2 linked regions of the Homo sapiens genome follow. The protein of the gene in region 2 purifies or fractionates together with the protein of the main gene of each other region. This does not show direct contact. Each region holds a gene or a part of one and is shown on either strand. Other genes may lie near its edges.

Region 1 (3,751 bases), on a different chromosome or scaffold from region 2:
TGGTTCTGTTTATTTTCCTACAGTTTCTAAAAAGATCCTTTCAACCAAACAAATACATGTTAAACAGACAGCAATAAATTCTTTTTCGTTTGACCAAATACTCTGAAATAGCAACTCCAGAGACTCTAGAATTTGGTACGGACCAGTAGGAAAATTATGGAAATTATAGAATGCTATCATTCCACTTTTCATCACGTTGGAAACTCTAATCTAATCCCAGGTTGCAACTAAAATGCTGAAATAACCAAAATGGAAAGGATAGTCTTTCATAATGTTGTATAAAGTTTCTTTGCATCTAAAATCCTTAGTGTGTCCAAGATCACACTGTTGGTCACATCAGACAAGCAATGAAGGCAAGTCAGAAGGTGATACACCAAAAAAAGGCAGAGATGAGACTCTGGCCCCAGAAAAACAAGGAAACGGAGGCAGATAAAGAGCTCAGAGATGGGAAAATCACAGACAAATTTGGGGCACTTGACATGACTCCAAAGAGTTATCATGTGAGATGGTAAAAAGAGATTAGCTATTTTTACTAAAAATAAACACCATACCTTTTGGGGAAAGGGCTGCTGAGAAACAGAGAATTTACCTACCTTTGACAAAGTACAATATTATGCTGCTGTGGGCATCTAGCATTACACCAGCAAATGTCCCAAACCCAAGTGAATTCTTGACAGCACTTAAAGGCATAACTCAGCCCTTTTTACTCCTTAAAAATCTAAGTGGGGAACTAATCTTCTCGAAGGTTCCTGAGTCATAGTTTTGTTAAAATATTTACTTGCTTTTTTCAGATATGCTTAATATCAACTGTTCAGACTTTAAAAACCAACTTGTCACAGATTTTCTAGTGGACTCACTTTTCTAGTAAAAGTCTCACACTCTCAGTCAGTCTCACACACATTCACACAATCGTATTATGAATTTTAATGTGACAAATTAAAAATATCTTTCATTGCAGAGGCTCTATTATGGACAGAGCATAATATCTACATGGATACATCAGAAATTATTGTATGTCATGAAAAAAATTATGTCACAAATAAAGCCCCACCCAACTGCTGATTTTCTATATGAAACACAAGTGGGCTTTTCATTTGTTGTGGGTAAGGCCACACCACTGGCCACATTATTTGGTTTCTCCAGAGGCCACTATCACTGACCCCCAAAGCAAAATAGAGGGCTGGGGGCACATCCCCATTTTTGATGTGCTGATGGCAGATCCTCCACCAGCAATATGAATACTTTTTTTGTTTTTAAATATCATCATCTTTTTGAACATTTATAAAAACTATCTACAATATAATAGTGTATCATCACTAATAGAAATTTCTTCTCAGTTCTATTTCAGAAGGTGTCAACTGATCGTGCTCTTTAAATAAACGATAAATACCCCATATATTCCTTCATGTCTAGTTGTTTCAACTTCTTCTTCTTCTTTTTTTTTTTGGCAAATTAAAAAGGCGTATGGCTTCTTTTCGCCAATTTTTATATTTGAGGTTTAGCTTGGTATCCTGCGGTAAAAGTACATGTAGCCCAGGTCTTTAGGGGGCCTTTCTGAGGCACAAACTTTGTGGTCATTGTAAATCACCCATCTGAAAATAAGACAGAAGCATTTGATGGATTTAAGTCAGTTCCAGGAAACTTTACACAAAGAAGTCACTAAATCATATGGCGCACAACACTTAACCATGATGTTTTAAGGTACTATACTCAAGTTCGTTGTATAAAAAGGGACAGAATGCTGGTAGGGAATCACAACTGCTTTTTTTTTTTTTTTTTAAGAGACAAGGCCTCATTCTATTCCCCAGGCTGGAGTAAGGTAGCACAATCTGAAGCTTCGAACTCCTGGGCTCAAGGGATCCTCTCGCTTCAGCCTCTGGAGTAGCTGGGAACACAGGCACATGCCATCATACCCAGCTACAACTGCTTTTTGATTCTTAAGCTCCATCAAAAAGTAGTTACTAAAATGTATCAGGAACCTCCAAACATTTTAACCTTTGATCCCATAACTCCCTTTATAGAAATCCATAGATAGCCTGAGAAATTGAGTCAAAGAATTATGTACAACAATGCTTATTTCAGTCTTAGTATAAAACTAGCTTAAAACCAGAATTTTAAAAAAATCCATGCAGTGAACTATTATAGAACTATTAAAATTTCTTCAAAGAATATTTGGCAAAGTGAGAAAATAACCATGATATAATATGAAATGGGAAATTACTGGTTAAAAAATTGTATGCACTCTGCACATACTTTAAGCTTTTAGTTAAGTTGTAAATACGTGTGTTTATTTATATGTAGTATGTGTGCATATAGACATATATATACTTTCTTCCAGTGAGACAATAAAACAAAGAAAAGTATATCAAAATGTAGACAATGGTTATTGTTAGGCTTCCAGGGTACATATTCTTTGTATATTTTTATATTTATAAATTATTTACTATGAATTTTATTGCTTTTAAAATTATAATTAAGCTATTTTTCTTTTAAAAAGCATTTTTATTTTATTTTCTTTGACTTCATTCCATAAAGTGTTTTTTAAAGCGCTATCGTGTTTGTAATAAAAACAATTCACCACAAAGATTAAGTCCCAGCCGGGTGCGGTGACTCACACCTGTAATCTCAGCACTTTGGGAGGCCAAGGCGGGTGGATCACTTGAGGTCAGGAGTTTGGGACCAGCCTGACCAACATAGTGAAACCCCATCTCTACTAAAAATACAAAACTAGCCAGTCATGATAGCACATGCCTGTAATCCCAGCTACTTGGGAGACTGAGGCAGGAGAATTGCTTGAATTTGGGAGGCGGAGGTTGTAATGAGCTGAGATTGTGCCATTGCACTCCAGCCTGGGCAATAAGAGTGAAACTCCATCTCAAAAAAAAGAGATAAATTCCTGTGCTCAACTATTTTACCAAGTTAAGAAGACAAAACTAAAAAGACACACCACAGAAGAACACAATGGAGTCCAGGTGGGAAATGGCCACTCCTGCAGTGGGAGCCATGGAGCAAGAGGCCACCCTCAGGCATTTCTCCAGCATCCACATGGCCTGAGCACTGCCCTCAAGCAGAAGTGCCAACCCACAGGCTACTCAGTTTGGAGTTGCAGGAAGGGCACCAGTAGGTCCTGTAGGGATCCAGCCCAGGGAGAAGGTTCTGAAGAAAGCAGCAGCCTTTCATTCCACAACTGTCTCATTTCCGGTTCACTACACACTTAACAATTCTACTTAAGAAGGCTGAGAAGCCAACTGCAAGGCTGTAGTAAGGCAAAGCACTGAAGGTTTAGAGCTGCCAGATAAAACACAGGTTACCCAGTTACATCTGAGTATCAGGTAAGCAATAAGAAATTTCAGTAGAAGCATGCCCCATATAATATTTGGGACATAGAATATTTGAAATTTATTTATACTAAAAAATTATTCATTATTTATCTGAAATTCAAATTTAATAGGGCATCCTGGTTTTTCCTGTCTTGTTTCCTTTTGTTGGCTAAATATGGCAATCCTAGGGAGGTTCCAATTACAGCATACATTCTGCTGCAGGATGCATCTTTATTTTGGGAGGTCACCTTGGTATGATAGTTGAAAGTGGCTTTGAATATCAGCTCTCACACAGCTACTTACTAGCTAAGGTCAAGCTATTCAGCCTCCCTGAGTCTCGGTGTCTTGATGTGCAAAAGGGCGTTAACAGTATACCCTTTACAAGACCAATGTGAGAACCAAATAAGATAACATACAATGTACCTAGGAGA
Region 2 (3,751 bases):
GTGGCACGATCTCAGCTCACTGCAACCTCTGCCTTCTGGTTTCAAGCGATTCTCCTGCCTCAGCCTCCTGAGTAGCTGGGATTACAGGCATGTGCCACCATGCCTGGCTAATTTTTGTTTTTTGTTTTAGTAGAGACGGGGTTTCACCATATTGGCCAGGCTGGTCTTGAACTCCTGACCTCGTGATCTGCCCGTCTCGGCCTCCCAAAATGCTGGGATTACAGGCATAGGCCACCGCGCCTGGCTGCCACTTAAATTTTTATTACTTTCATGGGACTCAAGTCACTCCACTTATTTAATCGCTTTAATACAGGGATGCTCTTTGAAGGCAGGGACTTTTCCTACTTATTTTTGCTGCAATGCTTTTCACAGTGTTTTATGAAGTAGAAGTTTAACAAATACTTGTTTAATTGAACCAAATGTTGATGCTAACTGTAATAGTACAATATAGTGATTATGATTATGTATTTACTGGAAAAAGTTCCTCTTCTTTAGGAATGAAGAAAAATATATTGGCACTATTAAAATAACAATACTGACAGACAGACAAACCCTAAATGAGTACATAAGATCTGACCCTGAAGATCATGGTGTAATTACACCATTCAGTATTCATTAGGTAAATAATTCCTATGTAAATTCCACCAAAATTTCAGCACTAAGAAAACTGGAAAGAAAGAAAAATCTCACCTGATCCTCTTTTGCTCTGTCAGGTCACCCTCACTAACCAACATCGCTGATAATAACCGAAGGGTTGAATTGGCAGATTTAGACTGGTTGTTTTTCATACCCAACAGCCACCTTACCAGAAGTTTAATTGCCTGTACCTATAAAATATTAACATGCTAAAAAAAGAAAGCAACTTAAAATTCCAATTAAAGGGAAAATTAATTTAATTAGATTAATGAGATTACTCATCTCCATCAGCAGACATTTTATTAAATAAGTCTATGGGATAATAACAGCAACAATACGAACTAATATTTACTCTGTGCTTAACCAGTGCCAGGCACTTTTCTTAGATCTGTAAATGTATTAACTTATTTAATCTCCCAAAAAATTCTTATGAGGAAGATTTTTTTTTTTCCAACAGATAAGGCAATTGAGACACATTATTATCATAGATAACTTGCTTAAAAGTCTGGTTCCAGAATTTAGGCTTCTCATACTTAGATGTTTGTGCAAGATTTTGAAACTATTTGAAAACATATACTTTAAAAACAACAATTTAAACTATACAGGCCGGGGGTGGTGACTCACGCCTGTAATCCCAGCACTTTGGGAGGCCAAGGCAGGTGGATCACTTGAGGTCAGGCGTTTGAGACCAGCCTAGCCAACATGGTGAAACCGTGTCTATACTAAAAAACCCCGTCTCTACTAAAAAAAAAAAAAAAAAAAAATTAGTCAGGCATGGTGGCACACGCCTGTAGTCCCAGCTACTCAGGAGGCTGAGGCATGAGAATTGCTTGAACCCGGGAGGCAGAGGTTGCAGTGAGCTGAGATTGTGCCACTGCACTCCAGCCTGGGTGACAGAGCAAAACTCTGTTTCATAAAAAAACCAAAACACACACACACACACACACACACACACACACACACACACACCCCACAACTGTACTGATTGTGGTGACTGAAAATAACTTGAGAGTTTCAGTTTTGTGGTATTGAAAAACTACTTTGAAGAAACCATCAAGTCTGATTCAGTCTCATTTAACATTGTGACCAAAAAAATGGGATTTTGTGTAATTATTGGTAGTCATAATTACTTAGAAATGTCTAGTCAAAAGATTGTTACCAATATATGTGAAAAAGCTAGCCAAAAAATCAAAGTATTATTTATTATATTTATTGACAACCTGGAAAAATGAACTGATAGAATATATGATGACTACAAAGCAACACAAAGTGAAAGATTATCAAAGAAGATGATACAATCTTATTTTAAATCCCAAATCTGCCACTTTTCAACTGAGCTTTACATCTATTAAATGTCACAAATTTAGTAACAATCATCTCTATCTGCTCTGTCACCCAGGCTGGAGTGTACTGGCATGATCACAACTCACTGTAGCCTTGACCTCCTGGGCTCAAGCGATCCTCCTGCCTCAGCTTTCTGAGTAGGTGGAACTATAGGTATGCACCACCACACCCGGCCAAATTATCATTATTATTATTTGAGACCGAGTTTCACTCTGTTGCCCAAGCTGGAGGGCGGTGGCGGGACCTTGGCTCACTGCAACCTCTACCTCCCAGGTTCAAGTGACTGTCCTGCCTCAGCCTCCGAAGTAGCTGGGATTACAGATGTGCAACACCATGCCTAGCTAGTTTTTGTATTTTTAGTAGACAAGGGGTTTCACCATGTTGTCCAGACTGGTCTTGAACTCCTGACCCCAAGTGATCTGCCTGCCTCAGCCTCCCAAAGTGCTGGGATTATAGGCGTGAGCCACCATGCCTAGCCCAACTAAATTATTTTTAATATTTTGTAGAGACATGGCTCACTATGCTGCCCAGGTTGGTCTTGAACTCTTGGGCTCAAGCGATCCTCCTGCTCTGCCTCCCAAAGTGCTGGGATAATAGGTGTGAAAAACAAATCAAAGTATTATTTATTATATTTATTGACAACCAGGAAAAATGAATTGATAGAATATATGATGATGATGAAGCAACACAAAGTGAAACAGATTATCAAAGAAGATGATACAATCTTATTTTAAATCCCAAATCTGCCACAGTGCCCAGCTTGACAATTACCTATCTTTGCCAAGTTAATATTCATATGCTTGTAGATAGTGGTGATGAGGCTGGATTTAAGATGCCTCTGAGCACCGTCATTCTATAAACAGTCTCTCTATAAAACAGCCTCATTAAGATTGCTTTAGCAGGCAGAAGACACTGACATGTAATAAACAATGACAACCACAATGTCTTCAATAAACCATTTTTTGCAATGGATTTTAAAATAAAGTACCTCCTTAACAAATGCTTATTAACTATTAGGTTTAATTAAAAAAGGCTCCCAGCTAGGCACGATGGCTTAAGCTCATAATCCCAGCACTTTGGGAGGCTGAAGTGGGAGGATCAGCTGAGCCCAGGAGTTCAAGACCAAACTGAGCAACACAGCAAGATCCCATCTCTGTTTATTAAATTTTTTAAAGGTGAGGAAGATAACTACAAAATGTCCCTTTTTTAAACATGAAGATTATCAAGGCCTAAACAAATTTACCTTTGCTAGTACTTCAGGGGAAACCTCTTCATCTGGAGACCACAGTTTTCCATTCTTTTCACCTGTTGACTATAGACAATTGAATAAATTTAGCTATTAGCATGAAAAAAAAAATTTATGTTTTTGCTGATTAAGTTTTTCATGTTGATCAACACAGCCTCTGAGAAACCTACGGGAACATCACCAACCAGAGCTTGGAAAAGGACAAAGTTAGAAGACTCATACTTCCCAATTTTGAAACTTACTATAAAACCTACAGTAATCAAGACAGTGTGGCTGGTACTGGCAAGGATAGACATATAGACTAATGGAATAGAGAACTCAGAAAACCCTTGCATATATGGTAATTCATTTTTGACAAAGGATGCCAAGACCATCTTTAGTGAAAGAACAGTCTCTTCAACAAATGGTGCTAGAAAAACTGGATATTCAGCCGGGTGCAGAGGGTCAAGCCTGTAATCCCAGCACTATGGGGGGATGAGGCAGGTGGATCACTTGAGGTCAGGAGTTTGAGACCAGCCTGGCTAA

The links. Proteins that work in one complex are often made in the same cells at the same time.
Region 1: the proteins of PDS5A (region 2) and USP13 purify together in Homo sapiens (affinity purification with mass spectrometry; 2 studies listed by BioGRID, with this or other methods). This does not show direct contact.

What each region holds. Positions count from the first base shown.
Region 1 is NC_000003.12:179,781,889-179,785,639, reverse strand, and holds part of USP13 (ubiquitin carboxyl-terminal hydrolase 13), read right to left. Parts: intron 1,593-3,751; coding exon 1,499-1,592; 3' UTR 1-1,498. UniProt on the Homo sapiens protein: Deubiquitinase that mediates deubiquitination of target proteins such as BECN1, MITF, SKP2 and USP10 and is involved in various processes such as autophagy, endoplasmic reticulum-associated degradation (ERAD), cell cycle progression or DNA damage response.
Region 2 is NC_000004.12:39,866,171-39,869,921, forward strand, and holds part of PDS5A (sister chromatid cohesion protein PDS5 homolog A), read right to left. Parts: intron 3,293-3,751; coding exon 3,224-3,292; intron 828-3,223; coding exon 691-827; intron 1-690. UniProt on the Homo sapiens protein: Probable regulator of sister chromatid cohesion in mitosis which may stabilize cohesin complex association with chromatin. May couple sister chromatid cohesion during mitosis to DNA replication.